Linked DNA regions of Homo sapiens. The protein of the gene in region 1 interacts with the protein of each later gene in a pairwise test. Each region holds a gene or a part of one and is shown in the gene's direction. Other genes may lie near its edges.

What was found.
Region 2: the proteins of PPIG (region 1) and BEND7 interact in binary tests that used the Homo sapiens proteins (3 or more experiments, as listed by UniProt).
Region 3: the proteins of PPIG (region 1) and KCTD6 interact in binary tests that used the Homo sapiens proteins (3 or more experiments, as listed by UniProt).
Region 4: the proteins of PPIG (region 1) and PPCDC interact in binary tests that used the Homo sapiens proteins (3 or more experiments, as listed by UniProt).

Annotation. Positions count from the first base shown.
Region 1 is NC_000002.12:169,629,207-169,636,579, forward strand, and holds part of PPIG (peptidyl-prolyl cis-trans isomerase G), read left to right. Parts: intron 1-1,567; coding exon 1,568-1,781; intron 1,782-2,392; coding exon of another isoform or gene 2,393-2,441; intron 2,442-2,559; coding exon 2,560-2,727; intron 2,728-3,953; coding exon 3,954-4,041; intron 4,042-6,885; coding exon 6,886-7,022; intron 7,023-7,206; coding exon 7,207-7,373. UniProt on the Homo sapiens protein: PPIase that catalyzes the cis-trans isomerization of proline imidic peptide bonds in oligopeptides and may therefore assist protein folding. May be implicated in the folding, transport, and assembly of proteins.
Region 2 is NC_000010.11:13,441,986-13,449,358, reverse strand, and holds part of BEND7 (BEN domain-containing protein 7), read left to right. Parts: intron 1-2,039; coding exon of another isoform or gene 2,040-2,042; coding exon 2,043-2,093; exon of another isoform or gene 2,094-2,817; coding exon of another isoform or gene 2,818-2,828; exon of another isoform or gene 2,829-3,272; intron 3,273-3,798; coding exon of another isoform or gene 3,799-3,812; exon of another isoform or gene 3,813-5,654; coding exon of another isoform or gene 5,655-5,710; exon of another isoform or gene 5,711-5,955; coding exon of another isoform or gene 5,956-6,017; exon of another isoform or gene 6,018-7,373.
Region 3 is NC_000003.12:58,487,787-58,495,274, forward strand, and holds the start of KCTD6 (BTB/POZ domain-containing protein KCTD6), read left to right. Parts: upstream 1-4,309; 5' UTR 4,310-4,383; exon of another isoform or gene 4,384-6,622; intron 6,623-7,488. UniProt on the Homo sapiens protein: Probable substrate-specific adapter of a BCR (BTB-CUL3-RBX1) E3 ubiquitin-protein ligase complex mediating the ubiquitination and subsequent proteasomal degradation of target proteins.
Region 4 is NC_000015.10:75,026,428-75,033,800, forward strand, and holds part of PPCDC (phosphopantothenoylcysteine decarboxylase), read left to right. Parts: intron 1-1,819; 5' UTR 1,820-1,891; coding exon 1,892-2,026; intron 2,027-7,373. UniProt on the Homo sapiens protein: Catalyzes the decarboxylation of the cysteine moiety of 4-phosphopantothenoylcysteine to form 4'-phosphopantotheine and this reaction forms part of the biosynthesis of coenzyme A.

The DNA of each region.
Region 1 (7,373 bases):
AGTTTATTTATGGCCAATCTTGTTTTACCCATCACTAGCCACTTTTCCCTTTCCTATTATTTTGAAACAAATTCCAGGCATAATATTTTATCAATAAATGTTATTTCTAAAAGATGATTCTTAAAAACAGTACCATAATGATACACACATACACATTCCTAAATACTAAAAATCCTGACAGTGTTCAGATTGTAATTGTTTCATTAATGTTAATTAATTTTTTGCTGTGTGAATCAATCCAAATGAAGTTCAGACATTGAAATTGGTCTTGTAAGTTGTGTTTTGTTTCTTAATAAATTCCCTCACCATCTTGTTTTATGTTTCCTTGAAATGTATTTCTCAGAAAAGGTAGGTCATTTGTCATGTAGCATTTTCTATAATTGAACATACTGGATTTTACTAATTGAGTCCTTACTGTGTTATGTAATGTTGATCAGATGCAGTTGTGACTTGAAATTCCTTTTAATGAAAACAGGAGTCACACAGGACAAGTTGTCTCTGTGTTTTGCAGCAGCCATGGGTTATCAGTGCCTCACAAGAAGTTGTAAAACGATATTTTAACACTATAATTTCTTTTTCATTTATTCCTGGAATGCTTCTGACAAAGAGCTATTTCCCTTCATTCATTTCATTAGCCAGTGGTGCAGTTTGTACCACAAAGGCAAGATAAATGCTTTATACTTTATGAGTATCACTGTGAACTAATGTATTTCTAATATAATCTGATATATCTCAATTTATTGTAGTTCTCATGTATATATCAATATTGTCCCATCTTTGGCCCCAGTTAGCCTCTTCAAATCCACCATGATTTGAATGAGTATACCTTTAGATGGGTCAAGCTCCTCCCAATTTGTAGTATCTTCTTCTAATTCTTGTTATGTTACACCTTCTAGCTTCACTTATTTATATTAATTGATCCTTTAAACTCTGAGTTTTTTTTTTTTTACCCTTTTTAAAGTTACTGCTTCCTTAACTGAAATAAAATTTCAATTTAAAATGACTTTTTGTAGAGTCCCCAAAACATTCTATTCATCATGGGCAATTGACTTCCCTCTGTTATGAGTCTCCTCTTGAGCTAAATTTCTTAATTATTAGAAGACTGCTTGGGCACTGAAATATAAGCCCATGCCAGTGAAATCCATTTCTTATCTCTCCATGTTGCTGTAAAGCAGTTTTTCTGTTATTTCCCTGCACTAGTTCTGCCAATCTTGATAATAAGAGGGAAAGTGGAAAACTACAAGATTAGAACATGGGACTCTTCATTGTTATTCTGTGCTTTTAAAAAAAATTCTTATTCAGATGTTTGTTAACATTAGTTTAGCATTTTAGACTCACCTATTTTTTAAAGTTCTTTGGATTAATAGATAAAACTTTGACCAGTGAATTCTGGAGATCTGGACTCTAATCCTGAGTCTTGACTCCTTTCCTGTACTTCCCAGTTCACATAGCTGGATGATCTAAGTGCTAAATACTGAACTTAGTGAGAATCTGCAGAAAATTTAAATCTCCTTCCACAAAGTTTGTCTAAAAATTGTTGATCAAAACCTTTTTGTTTTTATTAAAGTTAAGAAAGAAGAAAAGAAAAGGCATAAATCATCATCATCTTCCTCCTCCTCATCTAGTGACTCAGATAGCTCAAGTGATTCTCAGTCCTCTTCTGATTCCTCTGATTCCGAAAGTGCTACTGAAGAGAAATCAAAGAAAAGAAAAAAGAAACATCGGAAAAATTCCCGAAAACACAAGAAAGAAAAGAAAAAGCGAAAGAAAAGCAAGAAGAGGTCTTAATTTTACTTTTCTAATGCTAGCTTTATATTCTGATTTCCTTTCTGTAAATCTGTTAGGATTTTGGGTCAATTATATGAAACTGTTAAAATAGTGAGAAATATAGCATGGAGCGTAGGACTTTTGATATTCCACAGTCTATAGATTAAATTTTGGGTACGTTCATTTTCTTTTGAAAGAAAACCTATCAGTTCATTTTTTTGTGTACTCAATGAAATAATACAGCTTTGGTGTTACAGATTTGTGTGTTTTATAGGAGGATTATGGGATTTATGAAAATTGCAGAAAACCACCAGTTGTTTTTCCTATTTTCAGTAGCAGTCCCCTTTGCTCTTACGATAGCATAAGGATAGAAAGCAGATAATGTCAGTGTATTTTACTTTCTTTTCCATTTTGCTTGAAATAATCTGTGTTTGTACTAAAACTTGTCTTCATCTGCCTATGGCTCAAATGCAGTTAATTTCTTTACCCATGTTTTAAAGTATTTTAAATTTATCAGAGTGCATTGCTCACATAGTTTCATATTTTTTATCCATTTTGTAGGAAAATATTTTTTGAGAGTGTGATAATCGAAACGTTTTGTTTTGTTTGTTTTTTGATTGGTTAGTTGGTTTGTCAGAGGAATAGAAGATTTTTCCCATGCGATCACATCTTTGGTAAGGACAGGATGTTTATATTATAGTGATATAAAGGAAAGAAATACCAACAATTGGATACTTCCGTAAGGACATAATAACCAACTGTAACTTGTTTTGTGTGTTTCTGTCTGTTAAGTGCATCTAGTGAGAGTGAAGCTGAAAATCTTGAAGCACAACCCCAGTCTACTGTCCGTCCAGAAGAGATCCCTCCTATACCTGAAAATAGATTCCTAATGAGAAAAAGTCCTCCTAAAGCTGATGAGAAGGAAAGGAAAAACAGAGAGAGAGAAAGGGAAAGAGAGTGGTATGTGAATATGTATATTTTGCCTTACATGGTTTACCATAGAACTTTTCTTTTTAAAAAGTTATTTATTTTAAACAAGATTTAATTGGTGACCTTGTCCCAAGATTGAAATCTTTTTTATAAAATGTTCTTCCGCAAAGTTCTTTTTTGCCAACCACATAACTAGAAAGGGAAATTGACTTAAATTACAAGTAGGTTCTGAAGTAAAGTTACACATAATAAACACTAATACAAAAAAGAGATGTTAAGCAGCATTCCAAGCCAATAACAAGATACTCTTTAACCAGTAAAACAAGATAGTGTTTTATAGTGTTATTTGTGTACAGTAAACTCTTAAGCAAGTAAGAATCTTGGTTTTTCAGTTTGTCTAATAGGAAAAACTGCTGTTTTCCTTACTTGGTTTACAACATTGTAATAAAAATTGATGTCATGTTCAAATCCTGAAAAAAGTTTACTACATAAATCTACATTATTAATATCTGTAATGCTAATGGTTCTTTATCAGTCATTTTAATAACTATGTCCAGGCTGGGCGCAGTGGCTCACGCCTGTAATCCCAGCACTTTGGGAGGCTGAGGCGGGCAGATCACGAGGTCAGGAGATGGAGACCATCCTGGCTAACATGGTGAAACCCCATCTCTACTAAAAATACAAAAAATTAGCCGGGTGTGGTGGCGGGTGCCTGTAGTCCCAGCTACTCAGGAGGCTGAGGCAGGAGAATGGCATAAGTAAACCTGGGAGGCGGAGCTTGCAGTGAGCCGAGATCACGGCACTGCACTCCAGCCTGGGTGACAGAGTGAGACTCCGTCTCAAAAATAATAATAATAATAATAACTATGTCCAAAAGTAGAAAAAGGAATATTGAAATATTTTTCTTAGTTATGATCAGAAATACATTGTCATAATACAAGTAATAAAATTCTTGGCCAGGCATAGTGGCTCACACCTATAATCCCAGCACTTTGGGAGGCCAAGGTGGGCAGATCACTTGAGCCACCATGCCCAGCTAATTTTTTGTATTTTTAGTAGAGACTGGGTTTTACTGTGTTAGCCAGGATGGTCTCCATCTCCTGACCTCATGATCCGCCCACCTCGGCCTCCCAAAGTGCTGGGATTACAGGCATGAGCCACCGCACCCGGCCCAGATTCATTTTTATTAAAGTAACATGTCTGGCCAACAAAAGTTTTTAAAAAAATGTGTTAACTTTCTGTTTGCTTCCTTCTAGTAATCCACCTAACTCCCAGCCTGCTTCATACCAGAGACGACTTTTAGTTACTAGATCTGGCAGGAAAATTAAAGGAAGAGGACCAAGGGTAGGTGATTCTTTCCCCAGAGATCTTCACAATATTGCATTTGTCTTCCTTAAATAATTTTAGGGTGTTTCTTAAATATTATTTTAATGTGCAAGTAACTAAAATTTAGGGGAGATGCAGGCATTGAATTATATATTCTCTTTCTTAAGCAGCTTCTGTATGTTGGTACTTCCCAACAGAAAATCCATGAGATATGAATAGATTTTACATTTACATGGTATAAAATGGGATCGAGGTCTTTCTTGTCTCCCGTGTTTCTTGGCAATCACTGTATCTCTATTCTTGTTAAAAATAAATAAAAATTAACCCTATTCTTGTATTTTATTCTTTTTTTATTTACTAGAGTGTCCTCATCAGAATTTAAATATCTTGTGCTTTCAAAACTTTATAGAAACTTGGCTATACTTTCCTGTCTTATGTCTTCACTTCCTACTTATTCCTCAAGCATTTTAGTTGTCTTCCACTACCGTTGTTCTGCTGAAAACAGCACTTGATACATAATCAGCTCCATGTCACAAATTCCAGTGGATTCTTTTCAGTCTTCATCTTACTTAATCTTGCTCCTTGTAATATTCTTTCCACCCCCCCCTTTTTTTTTTTTGAGATGGAGTCTCAGTTTGTTGCCCAGACTGGAGTGCAGTGGCATGATCTCGGCTCACTTTAACCTCTGCCTCCCAGGTTCAAGCAGTCCTGCCTCAGCTCCCCCTAGTAGCTGGGATTACAGGCACATGCCACCATGCCCGGCTAATTTTTGTATTTTTAGTAGATACAAGGTTTCACCATGTTGGCCAGGCTGGTCTCAAAACTCCTGACCTCAGGTGATCCACCTGCCTGAGACAGGGTCTCATTTTCACCCAGGCTGGAGTGCAGTGGTACAATCAAGGATCACTGCAGCCTCAACCTTCCAGTCTCAAGCAATCCTCCCACCTCACCCTCCCAAGTAGCTGGGACTACAGGTGTGCATCACCACATCTGGCTAATTTTTGTATTTTTTTGTAAAAATGGGGTTTCGTCATGTTGCCCAGACTGGTCTTGAACTCCTGAGCTCAAGCGATCTGCCTGCCTCAGCCTCCCAAAGTCCTAGAATTACAGGCGTGAGCCACCGTGTCCACCCATTTACCTAACCTTTAAATACTGTAGTACCTCAGGGTTCCCATTCAAATCTTCTCACACTGCATATACTCCTTGAGCAATCTCATGACTCCCATGGCTGGTAACTGTCAAATTTTTATCGGCATTTTTCAGCTCCAAAGACTCATTTGACTAATGAGTACCTCAAACTTGGCTTTTACAAAGTTGAGCACAAGCTCTTCCTCTTCAAATCTGAACCTTCTTTAGGTTACTGATTTTAGTGACGGGCACCACCACCTGTGCAGTTCCTTCCCAAGAATAATCTGATTCTCCCCTTTCAGTTTATACCTTAACTATGCAAGTAACTTAACTATGGTAAGATACATGAATATATCTTACCCATCACCGAATACTGTCATTTCTGCCTCCTAAATATTCAGAAATTCATGTGTTTCAAGCTTTACCCCTGCCATGTTAATTCAACTCCATCATATTGTCTGAGCTGTAAATTTTGATAGTTCTCAATTTTTTTAAATCTCAGTACCTCTTTCATGTTAAAAATTACTGAGGACCCAAAAGAACTTCTGTTGGTGTGGGTTATATCTATCAATATTTACTCTTTCAGGAATTAGTACTGAGAAATACTTGAAACATAAGAATATATAAGCACACATTCCATTAGCTGTGAAAGTAATGATATCAAAACATGTAAACTGAATAACACTATTGTATGATAATGAAATAATGAAAATGGAACAGGCAAATATTGTGATATTATTATGAAAATAGTTTTGACCCCGAGTCTTTAGATCCTAGATCCCACTTTGAGATTCACTGTCTGATCTTTTTTTTAAAATAGTAGCCAGAATTGTCATTTAAAAATGAAAGTCTGATTTTTGTGCCACTCCTTTACCATTGATCTTAGGGTAAATCCAAAATAACTACAATGGCCTATGACACTACACAAAACCTAGTCCTTGCTTACCTCATCAATGTTATGTAGTACTACTTTCCCTTGCAGTTTTTAGATTTGGCCATGTTTGGTCTGTCTTCTCATCATTTCTAAAGCATGCTATGTTTCTTCTTAACTCAGAACCTTCCTGTCAGCATCTTTTCCCTTTTCCTTTTATACCCATTCTATTATAGCTGCATATATGTTTAACATATGTGATTATATGTTCATTCACATGCTCTCCAAGTCCTGTAGAATATGAGTTCCAGGAAAGCACACTCATATATCTTGGCTCACTGATGTTCTCTCAGTATGTAATAAGAGTGTTTGGTCATCCTAAGGGTTGAATAAGTGAACATCTACACATTTACTCTGTTTTCCCCATAATATGAGAAATATTTGCTTTGAAACATTAAGTATATATAACATTTAGATTGGAACTTGGCAACTTATGAGTTGCTCTAGCATTACTTGGTTAGGACTCTTCCATGGAGAAGACGTATGGCTAGCAGCTAAAGTTTTTGTGATTAATGTTTCTTGGAATTTGCAACATGACAACTTAAGTTTCTCTGCCTCATTGATTTCCTATATGAAAATTGGGAAATTTTAGTAATTTTCAGGGTATAGAAATATCAGACGTTTTATTTTAACCTGGAAACATATACTTTTAAGCTACTGTTTCAATGCTTTTTATATTTTTTTTATTTTGTACCCCTTACTACCTCCTGACCCTCACCCCAGTACTTCCCTCCCTCCCAGCACCCATGCGAGTCCCTCTATACTTCTATACATTAATTTTTCCCTATTTTAATTTTCTTTAGCGTTATCGAACTCCTTCCAGATCCAGATCAAGGGATCGTTTCAGACGTAGTGAGACTCCTCCACATTGGAGGCAAGAGATGCAGAGAGCTCAAAGAATGAGGGTATCAAGTGGTGAAAGATGGATCAAGGGGGATAAGTAAGATTTAACTATTATTATTTCAAATGTAATGATAAGTGTTTGCTTTTACTATTATACATAAAGTTATTGTCATTTTAGTTATTGCTGAATACCTTAAGAAAAGTAGAATATCATTTTAGCTAATAATATCTACAGTTCTTTTCCTAATAACATTTCCCCAATTCTTTTTCTTATTTTTTAGGAGTGAGTTGAATGAAATAAAAGAAAATCAGAGAAGTCCAGTTAGAGTAAAAGAGAGAAAAATAACAGATCACAGGAATGTATCTGAGAGTCCAAACAGAAAAAATGAAAAGGAGAAGAAAGTTAAAGACCATAAATCTAACAGCAAAGAGAGAGACATCAGAAGAA
Region 2 (7,373 bases), on another chromosome or scaffold:
GCCCCGTGAGCATTTAATACATGGTGATTATCATTGTTATTATTATTGAAGGATTTTTAAAATCCTAGGCAGTGAGAGAACTACCATGAAGACCATCTGTCCCCAACTCACTCAAACCAATTAGAAGAAAATAATGTCTTCTAAATATAAACATAACATATGTTCATTATTTTTCATATATAAAATAATTTCTAAAAGCCATAGAACAAAATTTAAAATACCTAAAGCCTTTCATCCAGAGGGAAACACAGTTAACATTTCAGTATGTGCCATATTTTTTCTATAAACCTGTTTCCAGAATCTTAATCACACCATTTATCCCATGGTTTGAATATTTTTATGTTGTTAAATATTCATCTACAACATCTTTTTTTTTTTTTTTTTTTGAGATGGAGTCTCGCTCTGTCGCCCAGGCTGGAGTGCAGTGGCGCGATCTCGGCTCACCAAGCTCCGCCTCCCGGGTTCACACCATTCTCCTGCCTCAGCCTCCCGAGTAGCTGGGACTACAGGCGCCTGCCACCTCTCTTGGCTAATTTTCTGTATTTTTAGTAGAGACGGGGTTTTACTGTGTTAGCCAGGATGGTCTCGATCTCCTGACCTCGTGATCCACCCGCCTCGGCCTCCCAAATACAACATCATTTTTAGCAGTTGCTAATCTAATCCAACCTAGGTTGGTCTTGCATATTTCATCCCTTCTCAGTGATTTCTCTTTGTGGTGGATCTAGCAGGTCAGCAGACAAGGGGTCTTTCATTAATGCCAGTGAGCGTCCATCTGAGGACAAGATGTTGGAGGATGAAGGAGACAGGGGAGCCATACAATATTTCTAGCCGTAGCTAAGCCCTGATTATGTTTAAAGCAACAATAAAAACAAGTACGTAGCACTAGTTTAGGCTGCTTCTGACTCAGTGTTACAACATGGTGCCAAGGCTGACCTCATTCAACAGCCTCACAAGGGCTGCCCACGCACATTATGCAGTCAGCAGGGGCCTGCCTGTGGGGACCACAGGCCCTGAGCCATGGAGGCCACCACCGAAACTATCCCAGGGGCCATAATGTGATGTTTTCCCATCCCCACATGTTACGGGAAACTAACAAGCCCATCCCTTGTCAAGAGACACACGTGCACCTTTTTTTTCGCATGTAACAGAAGGTTTTTTGTGACTGAAGGATCTACCTTTGGAAAACTCCCAAGGAGATGGATACATTTATCAGACACGAGCGAAGGTTTGCATTTTAAAACTTAGAAATGGAGAATCTTTTGAAGCAACGCCTATTCCTTCTTCATGACCACGTTAATGCCAGAGTTAGATTGGCAGTTCTAGGATCTGAATCAGCCATCTCCAAAGAAAGGTTCATTCTCAAGATTTCCTAAGCTGCCCCCCAGGAGTGGTTCCGGCGATGCCAAGTGCAAATTCTACAGCAGGAATTCATTGACACATCCCCGCGATGACCCTATTTAAACAATTCACCCCACATGCTGGTTCGATATTCAAGCCTATGTAAATAAGTGAAAATAAACAGAAATCATCAGTGATCAATAGAATGAGGTTCATAAGATTTTAAAAAGTTTTAATATCATGAGGTCAGGAGAGCGAGACCATCCTGGCTAACACAGTGAAACCCCGCCTCTACTAAAAATACAAAAAATTAGCCAGGCGTGGTGGCGGGCGCCTGTAGTCCCAGCTACTCGGGAGGCTGAGGCAGGAGAATGGCGTGAACCCGGGAGGCGGAGCTTGTAGTGAGCCGAGATCGCGCCACTGCACTCCAGCCTGGGCGACAGAGCGAGACTCCGTCTCAAAAAAAAAAAAAAAAAAAAAAAAAGTTTTAATACGGGAAAGTTGATTTTATATCACCATCATCAAAAAATATTCAAATAATGATATTAACATCTGTAATATGAACCAACGGTAGCTGAAAACAGAAAAGAATGGTGAAAACAGTTATGTATACTGGAGTTTTTAAAATTACATCACTATTTTCTGTAAAATGAATGTGCTCCCTGGAACTAATGAGATTTGTGTCTTATGTTTGTAACCAGCAGAGATCGCGGACAGTGATGAAAGACTGGACGGCATTGCTCTACCACCAACAGGTAAATAAAACGCATTTACATTTTCATCACCTCCTGGAAAATACAGCCCACAAAACTATTTGCATTGAAAACGATTTTAACATTAGACATGCAGACACTTGAGCAAACTGCTTCTGCAGTGGACCAGGCCCCGTCATTGGAGCTTCTCAAGGCCCCGTACTCAGAGATGTTTTTCATACTGAATAGAAAAACGTTTTTCTCACACTCTTATTTTCATAAAAATCTCAGAAGAGCAAATCCTAAGAACTAAGTATCATAACATTTTGCCTCCCCAAACCTTTGGACATTACAAAATATTTTTAACGTGAAATGAGATTTCACCTTAAAACGGGGACCACTAATTTTGTGTGATCAAATTCATGGCTAGGCTGTCCTCTCCCACCTCCTCCAAACGGCCTTGGAGCCTTGAGCAGTCAATCAGTGGACACCCAGTGAATACTATGTTTTAACTGAGCGATTTGAACAAGGCCAGCCATCCGGCGTGAGTGGCACATTCCTAATACCAGGACCAGATCAGCTGAAGATACCCTTCCATGGAAGCATTTGCTGCACGCTGTTGTGTTAAGCCATAGACATAATTCCAACTTCATGTTATTTGACTCTCAAGTAATGCTTCTGACCCTGGCTTCCTACCTGTGTATGGGTTCATATCTGAGAGCCAGAGGGGCAGGTGTCTGATCAATGAGCCTTGTGGAAAACAATGTATCCCCTCCATTGGTCACAGGACTCTACTGACTTCCCTCCAAAGGATATCTGAAGATTCTCTGCCCACAAAACCCAGGTACCCCCAAAAACCCTCTTACTGAAAAGGTTCAACCGAATGTTTTTTCCTCTAGTTTTGGGGTGGTCTGTGTTGATTAAATTCAGCAAATATTAGTGGAGTCTCTAGGTTGTGTAGGAACTTGACTAGGCCATGTATTCATTGACAGCACATATCCCAAAATGGCAAGGAAAGCCACATTCGCAGGCATAGGATGGGCCTGTGCTAGTGAACTTCAGAGCTTCAGAGCAACAGGAAAATTCAGCCGTGTAAGAGACACATTGCTTTCTCTGCCACTGAGTAGCTAAGCAACAGATCAATGGACAGATAAATCAAATGAGCTACATAGTGCAAAAAGACCTGCCTACATCAAGTTCTTCCCATACAGAGTCATTATATAAAAGAGATTTCTGTTCTTCTTTGGCTGTGTTTTCACATTTGTGAATTAAGAGAATTGAAATACGTGATCTCTGTTGTTCCTTCCCAATTTGTCATTCTCTGAATATCAGGGCACGCATATCAGCCTCATTCTTATCACCTGGGCCCAATCCCAGCCGATCCATGAAATCCTAATCGTAATAGACCTAGCCTTCAGAAGGCCCTTCAGGGGAGCACCATGCCTTTCTAGCTGTGCTTCCCAAGTGCCCTCCCACCCTGGCCATCTGCACTGCCTGTCCTCCTGTGTCATGTGACACAGTGAGCTTTTATTATTTGAAAGCCACTCCCCTTGAAGTTTATATTCACCCCCAAGTGGTGAGTACGGAATGCCTTTGTATTTTCCTATCTGAAGTTGGAGATACGTTTCCAGTGAGAAAACTGAGGTCAGAGGGTGCTAGAAGAGCCTCATGGAACTGAAAAAAATGTCAAGGAATCTGAGAATGAGAAGGAACTTGAGAGATCCTCTAGTCCAATCCCTTCTTTTTATCCAGTCCTTTTATTTTACAGGAAAAAAAGCCTGAGGCCCAGAAACATTAAGTGGCTTTCCCACGGCCTCACAGCTGGTTGACGGCCTGGCCGGAACCCAGGTCCCTCGACTCCCAGCCATGATACCATATAGCTTTCTCATACCTAAGCCAAAGCCAGCTTTTCTCTGCATGTTTCTTAAAGATCCTAAGAGATGATGGATGTGCTAATCCCTTTAGGAGTCCTCTTCACTGTCTCAGTCTTCACAATTAAAATGTTCGTCGTCAGTCGGCCCGGTTCACTGCAGCTGAAACTCGTTTCTTCCAGTCTTTTCTCAAACTTTACCCAAGGCTGTGAGGTCATAATGAAGAAAATAGTATAACACACTTGCAGATCTTTTCATTAAACTATTGATAGATATTTGATACAAATCACTAAGCAGCATGATAAATAAAAACGTTTATCATTTAGAAAAGAGGAAAAGAGGCCGGGCGCGGTGGCTCACACCTGTAATCCCAGCACTTTGGGAGGCCGAGGCGGGCGGATCACAAGGTCAGGAGATCGAGACCATCCTGGCTAACACGGTGAAACCCCCGTCTCTACTAAAAAATATATAAAAAATTAGCCAGGCATGGTGGCGGGCGCCTGTAGTCCCAGCTACTCAGGAGGCTGAGGCAGGAGAATGGCGTGAACCTGGGAGGCGGAGCTTGCAGTGAGCCGAGATCGCGCCACTACACTCCAGCTTGGGTGACAGAGCGAGACTCCGTCTCAAAAAAAAGAAGGAAAAGAAGTCTCAGATTGATGCTCAAATTTTGCAGTAATAATATTAAGTAATCTTGATATTCACCTGGATAGCATGTCTCTTGATTGCCTCCAAAGTAAAATCCCCATTCTGGTTGGCTTCTTTGAATGCAGTGCTGCTCCTAACACCCCTCCTCACATGTGCCCTTTAAGGACTCCACCTTTCTCGCACATGTGGTTTCATCCTTGAGCTTGAGCCTCACTGGTCAGAACCACAGGATCGACCAAGGGCTCTGATACAGACTCTCATTATCCCATTTATCTGAGCTAGCAACAGTTAGTTCTTTTTAAAGATTCAACAATGCTTTTATTACTTTTTTAAGGTCTTTTTTCCTCCTTCCAAAGTTGTGTATTTGGGGGAAGGGCAGGGAAAGGGATGTAAATGCTTAAGTGTTTCTATGAACCAGAAGTGACTAGGGTAGGGTTACAGGCAGGTCAAATGACATTTGTTTGGATGCATTACATTTAAGCAACCTTCTGTTCATCAGGCTTTAGCAGAAATGGATTCACCTTCTGTAGTGCATCTATTTTAGTTTCCCTTAACCCTATTCACTAAGCCTTTTTGAGCAACTACCAAGAATCAGCCCCGTGTTGGGTGCTGGTGTACAAATGCCCTCAGACTAGTGTGAGAGGCAGAAGGAATTACATAAATGCTATAGCACAGATGTGTGGAGAGGGTCTGGGGCTCAAGAAAAGCCACCCAGGAGCTGGGGACAATTTGCATTAAAAAAAAAAGTATAGAGAAAGTGAAATCAAAACAGTGCTTTCTAAAATTTAAAATGGGGCTTCCAAATTTGAAATGGGGATGTTCATCTAGACTTAGCAATTGTCATAAATTGGCATTTTACATACTTTTAAAAAATTAATAAAAGTGTAAGGAAGAACATTTCAATTGCTTTTACCACCCACAGACAACCATTATTGGATGATTTTTCTCAAATGTTTCTCCATTTTATTTATTTATACAGTGGAGATCAAATATGTAAAATTTTGTTTCCTACATGTTTTTTTGATTTTTACCTAACAAGCATTTTTCCACTCTATGGCAAATCTTCATATGCATTATTTTAATAGCTGCATAATATTCTGTTTTGCAGGTAAATTATCTTTTAGGCCATTTTCCATGACTGGACAATATGTGGATATACTCTAATAGTAACACACATTCGTGGCCTTTCTCATAAAAAATCATTACAAATTTCCAATTTCTACAATTGCTCATGGAGGACAACTAAAGCCTTGGCTAAAAACTTAGCGACTTAAGTGTGAAACACAGACACCTCCCCAGTAAATTGTTTACTTGTCCAGAACGCCCACCTCCAGCCATGTCACAGAACCATGTACAACTCTTCCTTAGAGAAGCGGCTCTCCGCCTTCATTTTCTTGTCTCTGTTGTAGGTAATATATTTGACACCAGGAGAGAAAACACGGAGGACACAGAACCAGGTTTCATTGCCTAGACTTTGATTTTAGTGACATTGTTGAGTGGCATATGTAACTTCCGTTTGAATTTCCACAAAGATCCACGTAGCATTTCAGGTTCCTGCAAAGTGTGGGTGTTCTGTCAAGCTTACCTGTCATGTTTGAATAGTTTCATATACTTTCTTTGTAATGTGTGATAACCAAGCCTCCAATCTGGTATAAGATTTTTTAAATCATTTTTAGGGTTGATTTGTTACCCTTTAAAAGTCCAGCATATGATTCAGTGAGTTCATTGTCCATTATAAAGAAGTGGTTCTCTCTTCCCTGTTTTCATTCAAAACCTCAGTATGAATATAGAGCTTTGAAACGTATTTATTTTAATGTAAATTGCTTAGATGCAGTATAAAGGAGAATGGCTCTTTCCAGTGCTGAGAGAGCAGTTGTGAAGGCCAAGATTAATTAGACCTTCATCATCTTAGAAGATGAAAAAGTTGTTTTGGGAGATAGGATAGCTCTGACCTGTAAGATGAAATCATTCATGACGTCAGTGCCCCCCAAATAGCCATTTGTAACTGAGTAAGTGCAAATGACCTATGAGTTCTTAGGAAAGAAAAACCTTTCACCTAAGTTGCGTCAACACAATGACAAAATAACTAATTAAAAGGTGAGAAAACCAGTAAATTATCTACATGATACCTGACAGCCATTTTAACAGATGGTCTTAACGGAGTGCTACAGGGTTTTGGCACCATGTGGTAACTAGCTAAAAATGTACTTAATATTATGTCATTTATTTGGTTCCTAGTATACTTGCCCTCCACTTTATATAAAACTAATTTATGAAAATCTGGATTTATTTTAAAAAGATATCTTGCCATGAAGGTATTTGTTTTATAGAAATATTTACCTCCAGATTTCTTTCTCTAATAAGATGGTGAATTTAAAACACTGTGTTATTTAGAAACACTGCATTTACACTTCATTTATTGTATAAAGCAAATTGCATTGAATCTTCGCCACTTGACCCAAAGGCCAAAAATTGGCATGAGAACAATTTGGACTACACATCACCAAACCCGGGGTTCACACCTGTCCACTAGCAGTTCCAGTGCCTTCCCCTAGCCCTGGATTTGGCAAAGCACAGAATGTTAAGAGCTAAAAGTTATTGTAGAGGCTACTCAGTCCCACCCGGGAAACTGAGGATGAATGAGGGTAAGCGGTTGCCCAGAGCCCGTTAACCCCTCCGTGGCTGGGGCCCTGCCTAGAACCCGAATTTCCTGACTACCCTGTCCAAGGTATTCATGTCACATCACACTGAAACGCTAAACCTAGAGATAGGAGAGGCCCTCTGGGATAAATCCCTGTTCCACCAAAGACCAGCCAGTCATCAAAGA
Region 3 (7,488 bases), on another chromosome or scaffold:
GCAGCCTCCTGGTTCACGCCTTGTTGTGCCCTCCCACACTGTAGTAGGGTTGATCTGTGGGACCATAATCATATGTGTGTCGCTTTTGAGGCTGGGTTATAAAAGACATTGTGGCTTCTATCTTGCTCTCTCTTGGGTCACTTGCTCTGGGGGACGTCAGCTACCATGTTGTCAGGAGAGACTCTCATGACAAGGAATGAATGCCTTATGCTGAACGCCACATGAGTGAGTTTGGAAGGGAAGTCTCCAGGCTTCAGATGAGTGCAGCTCCTGCCGCCAATTAGACTGCAAGCTCCTGCGGGACCCTGAGCTGCTTCCAAGTTCCTGAGCCACAGAAACAGAGGGGAAAGCACTTGGAAGCCGTTTTAAGTCCCTACCTTTTGGGATTATTTGTTATGTGGCAAAAGGTAACTGATACAGTGGGTAAAAGCACCTAGCACAGTACCTTGTACAGAATTGGGGCTATAGAACAGACAAGATCTATAGCTCTGGATTCAGGATAGAGGGCTGGGCTGGAGACAGGGATTTGGAAGCCTTTGGCTCAGACACAGTAAAGGAATCCATGGAGGTGGCTGAACCATTCCATGGAGAGGGGTACATGGAGAGGAGGGGATTGTGTTGAACAGGAACTTGAGCTTAAGTGTCGGGGTAAAGCAAGAGGAGCATCTTTGTAAGTCTAAGAGGAGGAGCTATGGAAGAAGGAGGAGAACATGCATCCTAGAAGCCAAGGGAAGGGGCTGTCCCCTGGCAGACGTCACTGCAGAAGCCTTGCTGCGGAGAGGCCTGAGCCATGCAGGTCGGAGGAGGTTCTTTCAGATTTAGTATCAAGGAGGATTCTGGTGAGCCATTTAGATGGAGAGGTGGGCCCTGAGGCCAGATTGAATGTTACGGGTTGGGGTCTTAGGGGAAGTGGGGGGACACAGCAAAGGAAGAGAGGGAGGGGGACACTGTGTCGAAGGAGAAGTCTGAAAATTCTTGAGTCAGGGACAGAGACCTGAGGCTGTTTATCTGCTGATGGGCGTGGGAGATGGGGACTGGAGAGAGGGAGGGATGGAAGATCTGAGCCTGGAGAGGCTAAAGGGTGGGAGAAGGAATGGACTAGAGCCCAGGGAGGGGATCACCTGGACAGGAGGTGGAATCCCCCAGCCATCTCATGAGGGGAGGACAGTGCAATGCAGGTCATTCCAAAAGAGGGCAGAGGAGGGTTCTAGGGGGCTCCCACTGAAGGGGAAAGGTTTTCCTGACAAGTAGGAGGTGAGGTCGGCTAGGCAGTGAGAGTTGGGAGAAGGGAGAGAGGGAGGGGACTCAGATCTCCACACTTCATTGTCTTGTCAACTGCTGGTGCCCCTTTGCCCTCCCAGCACCGTGCTGGGCTTGGTTCCTTCCTGTAACAGGTGTAGCTGCAATAATAAACAGCCCCCTCCAGGTCAGCCTGGCCCCAGGGCAGACCAGGATCAGTATCTTTACCACAGGAGCCTGGATACTTGGTGGCCACCTGGAAAAGAAAGGTGCAGAGGGTCAGGGGCAGCTGTAAACCAGAAGCCAGCCTTCCCCAGCAGGCTTGCAACCCTGAGCTCTGTGGAGGCAAACAGCTTCCAATATAAACCCTTTCCACCCCCAACCCCCCAAACCAACAGATCCAGATGGTTTGCGGGAGAATCCTATAGAACATTCAAACTACAGAAAATCCCAGTCTAGTGAATAGACACTCATTCCTTAAGGTATGTTATGAGGCTCATGTAACTTTGATAGCAAAGCCAGACGAGGAGAGAATAAGCAAATAGTAGCATATCTCAGTCATCCACGTGGATACAAAAACCCTAAATGAAATATTAGCAAATGGAACCCTAAATGAAATATCAGCAAATGGAATCTAGCGGTATACTGAAAAAATAATACATCATGACGTGTGAAATTCCTTGAATAAAAATGCATTGACTTAAAAAAATACATTATCAAGGCGAGTTTATCCCGGGAATACATGGATGGTTTAATATAGTAAGATCCATGGTTGTAATTCATTACATTGCAATGGGGGGAATCTCACATTGATAAAATTCAGCACCCATTCATAGTAAAGAAGAATAGTGCTTCCTTACCCTGATAAAGAATATCTATCAAAAAATCCACAACAAACACTATAGTTAATGGTGATATGTTACAAGCAGTCAAGAACAGGATAAAAATGCCCATTACCATCACTGCTCTTCAACATTGTGTGAGAGAATTTAGTCAGCACAGTACAGCAAGAAAAAGGAAAAAAAGGACAGGAAGATACCACACTGTTATGACTTGCAGACTCTATGATTATTTGCACAGCGAATTCAAGAGAACCTACAAACTTATTAGAACTGAAAGAGTTCACTTTTGCTGAATATAAGATTATATAAAACCCAACTGCATTTCAATAGCCATCTATCAATTATAAAATACAAAAGTGAAAGTACAATTAGCACTAGTTATAAAAATTTTAAGATAGGAGGGACTAGGTCTGACAAAATCACCAACAAAATTAATCCATCAGTTTTTATATGGGGAAATAGAAGCCCTGAGAGGGGAAATGACTCTTTCAAGGATACCCAGTAAATCAGAGGCAATTCTGGGTTTTCAGTGGCACCAAATTCTGGAGATCTGAGTATTGGGTAATTTTGGTATTGTCCTTCTATTAAAAAACAACAAAACCCAGTGGGGTGGGGAGGAGTGGGGGGCAAAAAAAAAAAAAAAGAAAAACCAAACCAAAACTCATTGTATTTTTCTGATTATAAATTCAATATTTATGTGTTCTGATTATAAATTCAATATTCATGAAAATTCAGAAGAACGTTATGAAGTAATGCCATTAACATTCCCATACTGTTATCTTGAACACGATGGTCAATGGTTTGATGTATTTCCTTCAAAATTTTTGTCTGTATATATTTATGTTTTTAAAAATAAAATCAGGATATCATGTGTACTAGTTTGTGTATTGATCATTTTCACACACATTTCCCTGTATTCTCACCTAGTCTTTGTGAATTTGATAATGTAGCACTCAGTTATGTTGATGAAGCATATGTCATTTATTTAACCTATCAATTTGAGCTTTTGGAGACAAATCAAGTATCAGATATAACTGTGATGATCATGCTGATACAATTTCAACCCCAGAGCTAGCTCACACACATGCAGACGTGAAACCCAAGTGAGTTTCTAAGGCCAGTGGTTATTCTGGTGGAGAAGGTTAAACCCAGCATCAGGTAACTGGTCCCACCGGAAGGGGACAGTGGCCTGGCTAGCAGGAAGTGAATGGACTTGGAACGAGTGGACGGATGGAGACCAATTAGCCCTGAGGCGTTAGGTGCTGCCCATCCTCTGCAGCCTTGGCTTCCTTCCTGGTGAAGTGGGGACAATACCAGCGCCAGTCTCATCTAGGGTCGAGCTCCTCCAGGCCCCAGAGCCTTTGCATGGGTCGTTTTGTCTGCTGAAGGTAGCTCTGCCCTTCTCTCCACCTGGCTGCCCGTGTTGCTGAGCTTCTGGGCCCAGCAGCCCTTTGCTGTCTTGCCCGTCAGGCCGGACCAGACCGTCTTGCCCCGGTGGCCCCGGGGGCTTCTTCACAGGCCTCATCGCAGGGTTGTCTCCCCAATGCAGGGCAGGCAGGAGGAGCTCTGGCCGCAGGTCGGGGTCCAGGTCTTCCTCGGCCACTGCGTTTGGAGCAGGGGCTCCCTTCCCTTCTTCTCCATCTAAGTCCTCTAATCATGTCCCTCCCAACACTTACGGCCATAACTTGTCATTATTTTGTCTATTAGCTGTTTCCTTGAGTCTTGTCTGTCTTCTCCTTTGATTAGGACCCGCCTCCGTCTTGGTGGCCGCTGTATCTCCTAAACCCCCAGGCCTGAGATATAGTGGGGGGCCCATACAAGTTCGTGAAATGACTAAGGAGAAACAGCTGTGGAGGCACCACCCCTGAGGACGCAGTGGGCCTGGGGTTGGGCGGACCCCAGGCTGCGGGCGGAGGCGGGACGTAGGGGCGGGGTTTCGGGGCTTCGGAGCGGAGCCTAAGGGGCGGGACTGGGGCTTCGGGGCGGGGCTTCGGGGCTGCGGTCGTGTGGTCTTGACCGCGCGGCTCCGACTGCGCTGGCTGAGTTCCTCAGGCCGCCCGCTCTCTGGCTTCCAGCCCGCGCTGCCGTTAGGGGGCGCCCGCGCTCGTGGCGCCGCGGCTCTGCTGGGAAGGCGCCGCCCGCGCCGGGCAGCTGGAGCCGCAACTCCGGGCGCGGGCTCAGTCGTCCCCTCTGCCGCCGCCGCCGCCGCCGTCGCCGGGCGCGGGCTCGCTTGTCCCCGCGCTCGCGCTCTCCGGCCGCGGGCATCTCCCGGCCCGGCCGCAGCAGCCGCCGCCGCCGCGCAGTGAGTGGGGCTGGCGCGGGGCTTGCGGGGCCGGGGTTTGGGAGGGCCGGGTTTCAGGAGACGTCTGCGCCGAGCGGCCAGGGGAGCGGGGCTGAGGAGGATCTGGGCGGGGGCTCCTGGAACGGGGCGGCGGCGGGGCCGCGTTGAGGGGACCGCGCGTCCCGGGCTGGCACGAGCCAGCAGCGGAGGTGCCCGCGGCGGGGCCTGGGCGGGGGTTCCGGGGCCCGCCCGGCGGGGATGCGCGGTTTCTGCGGGCCCGGGTTCGGAGCCCCGCGGCGCGCCCCTCGTCCGGGCCCGGAGCATCGCCCGCCCTACCCCTGGCCGGGTCGGGTTGCGGGGGCTTCGCTGGCGGGGCAGCAGCGAAGGGCGGCCCGGACGGAGATATTTGGGGTGTGCTCGAAAATGATTGTTTTTGGGAGATGGCGCTTATTAGCCACCAATTGCCCTAGTTTAAAGCTTGAGGCAGGACTCAAAACCCTGCCTTTGGGATTTTCTGCCCTGAAGAGACTCTCAGATCGCAGCTGAGTTCTTTATGCCTAGATTTGTGTGTGTGTGGTGGCGTTTTTAATGCTTGATGTCAGAGGTGATAAATGGCCATGGTAATGGGGAGCCCTGGCAGCACCTGCTGGGCTGACAGTGGTGGAGGCTGTGTCTGGGGGTGGGACGGGGAAATGAAACGTGACAGAGATCCTGTTTGGATATTCTGCCGAAGTTACCATGTTTCTGTTCAAGTATACCAGTTCTAGAACAAGTTGATGGATCCAATTTTAGGACTTTGTGATAGAAGAGGTTTGGGTGGCAAAGTGACCTGGGATGACCCGGCTCGGCTAAGAATATTTGGGGTAGCCTAAGTATCTCTTCTATATCCCCCTGGCATGTTCTTTTTTTCGCTGTCACAAATGCCCTATTACTTGAATCATCCTGGGATAGGAGAGAAGCTTGGGGACAGCATGTAGCACAGTCCTGAGCCCAAGATTGAGATGTTTTCAAATGAACGAATATGTAGCTAGGAAAAGGAAAATGTGTTTGTCAGCAGGGTTGGTAGGTTGAGAGTATTTTCTCTTTGGCCGAAACCATCAGTCCATACTGATACTTGATTTTGTGCTATGCCTTAGATATGAACGATGGAGTGGTCAGGATAGCCATGGATGCCATTCCAAAGTTTTGTGATTTGAATTTTCATAAATCATATTTTAACCAAAGCATTACTACTTAAAGGAATCTTAGGGTGAACCCTATGAATCCTTCAGTGCGCTTGGATTTTGATATTTGGGGTCCATTTAAAATGGAGTACCTGTATGTATTTGGATTCAGCTTTAACTTGGAGATAATCCCGAGTCATGCTTTAAAGAAGTTCCTTCTGAGATCAGGAGCTCAGGTGTTTGGTGAACTCTGGGAAAACTAGACACTCCCCTTTACCTGTATATAGTTCTCCCTTCTGGAGCTCTGGGAAAAGGAGGACCTGGGGAGATTTGAAGCAAATTAAGAGGCTGCCTCCTCCATATTTGCCGTCTCCAGGCCAATGCTCTAAATTACTTGTGTTCACACTCAAGTTTCTCATGTTAACCTAGAAATTTTGTTTATGCTGCTGCCACTAATGTTTTCACATTTGTCTAATACTTGCTAGTTTACAGATGGTTTTATATTCATGATCTCCCTTATTTTCTCCATTTCCCCAAAGAAGAAGCTGGGCATAAAGAGTGATTTTCTCAGGGTCTCATAATCAGTAACGGAGCAGAATTCAACTACAGGACCTCCCTGGGAACCTGTTCTCTTTCCTTGTCCTGATGTGTTACTCTTATAGGCCAATTTTTGCCTTTGTGTTGTGCCTAAATGGTGTAATTACCCCGTTTTGGGAAGGTGGTATTATCCCGTTTTATCTTGCGGAAACTGAGGGTTAAGAGGAATGTTATGATTTTGTGACTATTTGTGACAGCTTTTTAATATTAGGTCACTTTTAAACCTATAGCTTCTCTCTTCTAGACCACATGGTTGAGAAAGGAGAAAGAGAAAATGATTACTTGTAGAGAAAAATCCATTTCTGCAGTGGTATGGTTAAGGATAATCTAACCATAATCACATTATCCTTGTATGCCTGGCTACTTATGCTGGCCTGTATGTGAATGTTAACCCCAAAGACTCCTTTAGATGTCGCTGAACTAGTTACTATAAAAAGTATTTCGCTTTCAAACTCCCACATTTCAAGAAGAGCAAAACTCAATACAAGGCAATTTTGAAGGTAAGTATAGAAAGAGGGAGTTTATTGAGTCTTTTCTGACTACCAGACACGAAGGTTTCAGTAAAAAAGCATTTTTAAAGGGCTGCCTGGAAACTCTGGGAAGTCAGTAGTTGGAGTTTTTTATTATTCGTTGGAGGTTTTTATTGCAACATATAGGTAGTTATATAGGATTAGGACTTTTGCCCCGGAGAATTCTTAATCTATAGCAGGAATGATAAACCCAGAATATTTTTGTTAAGTTAGTTCATCATAACCATTAGGCCTGTAATTGCAATTCTGCAGTGATAGGGAGAATGGCATTTAAGGGTTCTTAGGTTATTTTTTTAAGTTATTAACTTACTGAATTATGTATGCATTTCTTCAGATATGCTACTTTAGAAAATTAATACTTCCTTTTAAGGTTTCTATAAATTCTTCAGTATGTGTTTTCTTAAGCTTAATTACCTGCTAACATGACACTGTCAGAATTTATACATTAGTCACAATAACCTTTGAAGCTTAAACATGGTTGAATTTTCAGCACTGCTTTATATTCTTTGGGGAGTGGGCAGTGTTGTTTTCACAAGAATTTTATTTGCATCAAAGGTTACATCTTTTCAGGTGAACTGATTTTTCAGGGTCAGAGGCTTCTTTGAATTTTATAGCTGTTTGTGCTCGGTTGCATTTGCTGTCTTTCAAAACCATCTTTAGTTTTAGTAAGGAAAGTCACTATAAAGGAAAAATTTTTTATTGTTACCATTCCTGGTAGATTTTCTGAAATATTAGATATTTCTTTGCTTTCATCAAGTAAAATAGGCCTATTTGATACCCATTTCAAGATCTTCCTTCTGCTGCCTGTCTTGTGGTCATTTAACTTCTCATTAAGC
Region 4 (7,373 bases), on another chromosome or scaffold:
GTGGAGCAGACATTGAGATTACTGGCAAATCAAACTTTGGGTGATCTTGCCCTAGGGAACCAGCCTGTGCTTAACCCCTGCTGAGAAGTGGGATAATGCAGCCAAACATGATCCTCAGCCCACGTGGGTTGTGCTCAAGTGCTGAAGGCAAATCCTGGGCAGAGAGGCTAGAGAGCCAAGGGGCCTGTGAGTGAAGAGGAGATAGGCCCCTGTGGATGCTCAGCCATGGAGGTAGCCATTGGACAACTCACCAGCGCTGCTTCCTGGGCAGCTGCCTGGGTTTCCCTTGCCATGCTGATTCTTTTTTGAGTGCATCTTCTAGGACCTTCTGTCTTGGAAGGAGAGCCCCTTACTGCTCTCTTTCATGTATTGACTCAAAGTTTCTGCTGGAAGGAGCTTCAGAGATCATCTGGTCCTACCTCTGCATTTTTCAGATGAAGGGACAGGTCCAGGGAGGGAATGACCCTGGACCAGGGTCACTCCAGGTCAGGAGCACACCATGGTCAGGGCCCAGGGCTTCTGCTTCACAGGCTAGGTATCTGTCTTCTGCTCACACTGCCTTGGAGGGTATAGTTATTCATTCAGCACCTGTTCAGGACTGCCGGCTAGTGGACTGCTGGTTGGCAATTAGACCCGGTCACACATTCAGGGAGCTTGCTGGTGGAGGGAGAGGCAAGGAAACTGATGTGTTAATTGAGTCTGTGATCACCAAAAAGGTGCATCCCAGGGAAGGACTGATCTCAAATAATTTCAGACAGGTGTCATTCCTGTCTTCTCAAACTCAACCTACAGATTCCCCAGAGGCAGCTACTGTGTTTTCCACAATTCCTTTGCATGGTGTTCTTTGTAATCGGTCCTCAGTGATGGTTGCTGATGAAGCACGTTCTGCTGGCCCAACCCGCCACGTGTAGGTTTTGGTGTCCATCAGCCATATTATCATGAGTGCACACTTCTAGCAACGTCTGAGAGCCAGAGGAAGAAGCAAACCAGCTAATCTCCTGGGGTGGCCTGCATCCCCTTTATGCTGGTTTCTTCCTGGGCTTTGATTTGTACGGTGGTGCCCATCTTGATTAACAGGGACAGGGACAGAGAGGCAAATCTCTTGGCTCCCTGGAGCACCCAAACCTCCCTGTTGCCCAGGGTTCCACCTCATGAGCATCTTTGGAACCCATCCCTTCCTGCCGCTTCCTTTCACCAGTCAGCCCAGTCCACCGCAGCAGCTCCTCTCGCCCTCCAGTCTCTCCACTAACAGGGTCCCTTTGACACTGTCACCAGGTGCCAGCACCGTCTTTCTAAAACCAAAACTCCTCACCCTGGCCCTCGCTGCCCACGGCATTCTGGCCTCACCCTGACTTTCAGTCTCACTTTCTGCCCCTCTACCACCCCCCATCACAGTCCGGCCTCACTAGTAAGCCACTCCCTGTTCCCCAACCTGCCACCCTCCTCAGGACCTTCACCTTGGCAAGATTGTTCCTTCCTTTGAAGTGATTTCTTCCTGTCTCTGAAAAACTAACTCATCCTTCAGGACTCAACCCCAATGTCATTTTTTCTGGGATGCAATCTCTGACTTCTAGAGATGGTCACCCTGAGCAGCCACGCACCTGGTACAGCCCTTCCCCACAGCACTGCATCATTCCCTTGTGACTGGCCCATGTGTGGGGAAGGTGTCTCACTTTCTTATCAAACTGTGTGCTCCCTGAAGCCAGGACTGCTGATCCCTTCCGCTGCCTCAGCCTCTGGCCTGGGGCCTAATACGTGGTGCTCCATACATTCTGGTCGACTGTATGAATGAAGGGGGTGGCCCTTGTTCTCCTTTTAGATCCTAAATCCCGACAGCTTTATAGAGCCCAGGCCTGGCAGGCTCCCAGAACTTGAAGCCACCAGACCCCACATGGAACCAAAGGCCTCCTGTCCAGCTGCTGCACCCTTGATGGAGAGAAAATTCCATGTTCTTGTGGGTGTCACGGGGAGTGTCGCAGCCCTGAAGTTGCCTCTTCTGGTGTCAAAGCTTTTGGACATTCCTGGGGTGAGTATCCTCACCAGATAAGCATGGCAGCCTCCGGCATGGGAGGCCGGTGCTCCCGGGGATGGCCCATTGCTCTGCAGTACATGCAATTTTCTTTTTCTTTATCATGTTAATCATGCTTGTGGAGGTCCTGTGTGTGTGGTGCTCTGTGGAGGATTCAGGAGACAGAGACCAGTGCCCAGTGTAACCAGGGGCTAGATTAGATAGTACAGACAGGGCATGAGGGGAGACTGGGAAAGGACCCAGTGAACGGAGGGTTTGGGCTCCCATACATTAACCCTGAGAATCCGTGAAGTCCTGTGTGGGAGGAGGGCTGGCTGGAGAAGTGCAGCAAGTTCTCAGTATCCCCTCCTGCCTTGGGCTTCCCCATCCCTGCTTTCATTCCGCCTTGAACACTGCGGCTGTGTTCTCCCTCCTCGTGAGACCTCATGGTTGTCTTGTCAGTCAAATGCTCTGAAACCCCATTGTCTGAAGCTCTAGGTTCAAACTTTGCTCCTTCAGGTGTTCAGAGCTGCCCCAGGGGCCCCCGACTGTGTGCTGGGGTGAGGGACTCTAGCCCCCGTCCTTGGCCAGACCCTCAACTTGGATCTATTTTCTATATTGGGGTTCTGGTGCAGAAGTTCAAGGCTTTAAACAGCGTGAAATCTAACAGGGAGTGGCCCCACTTCCTAGTTCCACCTCCAGGGCCCTTAGTTGGTCTGTCTTATCCCCCTTGGTCTTTGCGTGGCTGGGCCCTGCTAGGCTGGCTGCCCTCTCTGCTCCTCTCTCGCCTTTTCACATTCTGTGCAAAGCCTTCCCTGTCTGCCCCAGCCCAGCCCCTGTGGTTTTGGCCCCTTCTTTTAAACTTATTTGACATAGAACTATAGGTTGCCTTAGACACTGCTGGTGTTACTGGCCCCTAGTTTTTGGTGGGGTCTTGTGAAGTTGCTGGGCCCCAGGCCTGGCTTTTCCCTCTTGTTATCAGCTGAGCACCCAAGGTGCAGTGGCCGTATCTGGCATGTCCAGCAGGGGGCGGTGCTTACTCACAGATGACCACGTGGTCACATCAGCTGGGGCTGGGCTGGGAAGTGTTTCACTTTTTTACTTTCCACCAACTTCCACCCAGAAAGTCACCCCATCACCCCACCCCCAGGGCTGGGATAAGCCATGAAGCTGCCAGCCAGGGATGACAGCCAGGCCAGAGTGGGGGAGGGAGGAGAGTCTCGTGGCACTCTGACACTGGGTGCTGCACTTTTAGGGCAGTGCTGCTTAGGCCCAGCCACCCGCTGTGTACCCAGAAGCATTGGTAGGAGCTGCCCAGCTAGAGCCGTGAGGGTGGGAGGCCTCTGCCACCACCCCCTGGGGAGGGAGGGAGCCATGCAGTTCCCTTTTCCCATAGCCCCAGGGCAAGTGAGTTTCCGGACTAGGGGTGGATAGGGGCGGGGAGTCCTATCCCAGGAAACAGATGGGCAGCCTCAGAGCGGAGGGAAATGGCAACCCTACCGCTTCCTCCCATCCCACGCAGCCAGCGTTTGGTGGGAGGGGGGTTGTGAGGAAAGGGTTGCCTGGAGCAGGGAGGTGCTCCAGCCCACCCCAGGGCCTTTTAGCCTGGGCCCCATGGGATGGCAGGCCATGTCTGGAACAGGACTTGGCTTCCCCTCTCTGGTTGGAGTTGATGCCAAAAGTGAGGCAGCCAGAGGGCACTGAACTGGGAGGGAGGGCTCCCCGACTCAGCCTCTTGGAGCTTGCCTTTCCCATTTGAAAATAGGGCTGATTCCTGCTGCCCATCCCCCAGACTCTTGTCAGGCTCCCTGAGATGTTGGCTGGGGTGGGAGGGGTCACAGATGAAAATGGTCCTGTGCCAGTGACTCAGCACAGAGCCTGGCATGTTGAAGCACTCGGTTGTGTGTGTTTCCTGGCCATCACCCTGTCCTTTCCCCTTGTTCATGTCCTTTGGGCCAGCCACATGGTGTGGGGCAACCCCACTGGGAAGAGCCATGGAAGCCACAGTTCACCTGCTCTTGTGGAGGGCCCATGCCTTTCATCTGCAGGGAGACAGCTCTCCAAGCCTGGCCTTGCTTATTAGGGCCCTCGTGAGGTGTTGGGATCCAAAGGTAATCCCTGGATTGCCTTGTGTTGGCCCCAGTGGTGGCGTCTATCCCTGCACACTCCCCTTCACTCCCTGATGGCCCTGATCTCCACATTGCCTCCTGCTGGATCTCCTGCAGGAGCATCATTGTCCCTTGGAGCAGTCACTTTCAGCTCTTCACCTGCTGAGTCGTGGGTTCAGGTGCTCAAGGCTTTCCGGAACTTCCTTAGGTACATCCAGATTTTGTCTAGCACATGAACAGCTGGGGTGTGGGCTGCAGGGAGCTGGGGGATTCTACAGATCTGGCCCATCACTGTTCCTGATTGACCAGTATGTCCAGACATCCCGGGAAAGCCGCTAATGTCAAGGTAGCCAAATCAGGGAGACTGTGAGGGGTGGTGGAGAGACATGGATTAGCCACAAGCCACACACACCAGCAGTCAGGGAGAGTAGTCACTAGCAGAGATGACCTTGAGTATGTTGGGGCAGGTGGGCAACCGTGTCACAAGAGAGGCAGCTGAGCACATTTCTGACGCTGGGACCCTGGGCAAGTCCGTTCTTTTTGGCCATAATTTTCTTATCCACACAGTGAAGGAGGGGCAGGTTCTCAAATGATCCATCTCCAGGGCCTCTTCTGGCACTGGTGTTAGAAGATTCTAGATGTGAGGGCAAAAAGGACTAGGACCCAAAGGCAGCCTGAGAGAAGGTCCTGGGGCTCAGGAGCTTCAGGATGCCGGGGGTTTTGTAGTTCCGTAGTTGTCATGTAATTGAGTGGCAGTAAAATCCGGGTTGTCAGCTCAGGCAGTTTCTTCCCTGGGGTTGGCAGCCTGGCCCATGCAGGGGAGCAAAAATGGCTTTCCTCCATCTTGCTAGGCTGCTTGGCTGGGCTATGAGTTCAACTGACTTATAAACAAAATTAACAGGGCCGGGCGCGGTGGCTCACTTTGGGAGGCTGAGGCGGGCGGATCACTTGAGGCCAGTTCGAGACCACCCTAGCCAACATGGTAAAACCCCAGCTCTACTAAAAATACAAAAATTACCCGGTTGTGGTGGGCGCCTATAATCCCAGTTACTCAGGAGGCGGAGGCAGGAGAATCGCTTGAACCCAGAAGGCAGAGGTTGCAGTGAGCTGAGATCATGCCACTGCACTCCAGTCTGGGTAACAGAGCAAGACTCCATCTCAAAACAATAACAACAAAAAACAAGATCAACAGGAGAAAACCATATTTAGTTACATATCTGCACATGGGTGTACCACAAAATATGAGATTCCCAGAAGGGTGAGATGGCTGAAGCCTGTATAGCAGCCTGAGCTACAGAAGGAAATAGGGGCTTGGGGCTTCTGGGGGTGGTGGCGACACAAGTTATGGGAGGGTGAGGGGAGGAATTATACGGTCTTGTTAGGCAGATAAAAACCTCTCAGATAATAAAAGATGCCTCAGCAGATTGTCAATAAGTCAGTCTTCCTTTCTCAGGGAGGGGGACTCAGGACAAGGGGAATCCCTCTTTAGGCAGATAAGAGAAGTTCAGAGAAAGTTCCTCCCTGCATTTGTTTTTCCCCCAGTGCCTTCAGGTTTGAAATAATCAGCATACCAAAGCCGCATATTATGGGGTGGCATTTCCTGAACTCCTTCATCCACACCCTTCAAACTTGGGAGGAGAAGACAGACATCGCCCTAGCTTTTGCCAGGGCAGGTGTCAGCAGAATTCAGAGCCAAAAGGGGATTTCTAAAGATAGAGAAAACCCCCAACTCAAGGAGTCAGCAGGCCTCGGGCTCAGAGAAGGATACATTTCTAGGGTGTCTGTCAGGACATCCAGGTCTGTCGAGGGTGAGGAAAAGAAGGCTCTGCTCATATGCAGTGTGGAGTAAATTCTGACTTTCTGGAGGACCACTTGACAATATTGAGAGAAATTAAAACATCTTCATAGTCCTTGATTTACCCACAGGATTAAACTCTGTGGGGTGTATTTACAAAGTGAAAGGATGTCCATTATAGCATTATTTATAATTTCAAAGCAAAACTGGAAGCAAACAAAATATCCAGCAGTAGAGAGCTGTGGTGCCCTTATGATTTATGGGACAATCTCTCAGTGGATTACTTGGCAATGATTCAGAAAAATGGGGTGGCTCTCTCTGTGCTGAAGGGAGCAATCATCAAGATGGAAGCGGAATAAGCAGGGTGTAGGAGCTAGCAAACTGGACCCCCCCCCCCAAGGCCAAATTCGGCTCTGCCTGTTTTTGTATAGCCTACAGCTAAGAATGATTTTTACATTTTAATTTTTATTATTTATTTTTGAGACAGGGTCTTGTTCTGTTGCTCAGGCTGGAGTGCAGTGGTGTGATCACTGCTCACTGTAGCCTTGACCTCCCAGGCTCAAGCAGTCCTCCCACCTCAGCCTCCCAAATAGTTGGGACTGCAGGCGTGCCATCACACTCTGCTAATTTTTTTGCATTCTTTTTGTAGATACAGGATTTTGCTATGTTGCCCAGGCTGGTCTCAAACTCCTGGGCTCAAGTGATCTGTCTGCCTCCACCTCCCAAAGTGCTGGGATTACAAGCATGTGCCACTGTGCCTGGCCTGATTTTTACATTTTTAAATGATTAAGTCAAAAGAAAAATAGTATTTTATGACTCGGAAAAAAAGTGATATGAAATTCAGATTTCATGTCCAAGACAATTTATTGGAACACAGCCATACCCATTCATTTACGTATTGCCTATGGCTGCATTCGTGCTACTACAGAGTTAAATCATTACGACAAAGCCTAAAATATCATCTGGCCCTTTATAGAGAAGGTTTGCCGACCCCTGGTATGCAGCCTGATTCCTTCTGTGTGTTCTTATACTGAGTTACTGCACACAGTTTTTTCCTCTGGAGGTGGTTACCCTTGTGAAGGGGGACCAGTGGAGGAAGGGAAACTTGCATTTTTCATTTTTGTATCATTCTGTTCAGTTTTAATTTGTAACCTATGTGTATATTTGTGTGTGTGTGTTTTTTTGTTTGTTTGTTTGTTTTAAGTCAGTGGGGCTTTTGGTGGGAATATTGGGGAACATTCTTGATAAGTTTGTGCTTTTTTTTTTTAAAGTGCTCACTGAGGAAAGAGCAGAAGACATAAGGCCTGGTTTGAGGATTTCTCTTTTTTTCTGGGTGGGGGCCACCTGCCCGCTCTGTGTCCTGATGTGGAAACTCTGAGACCTTTATTTGTGCCTCTGCCTGCTTGGCTGGCCCCTTCCTCCTCTGGCCTGCAGCCCTGTCACCTGCTCCTCTAGGGACAGA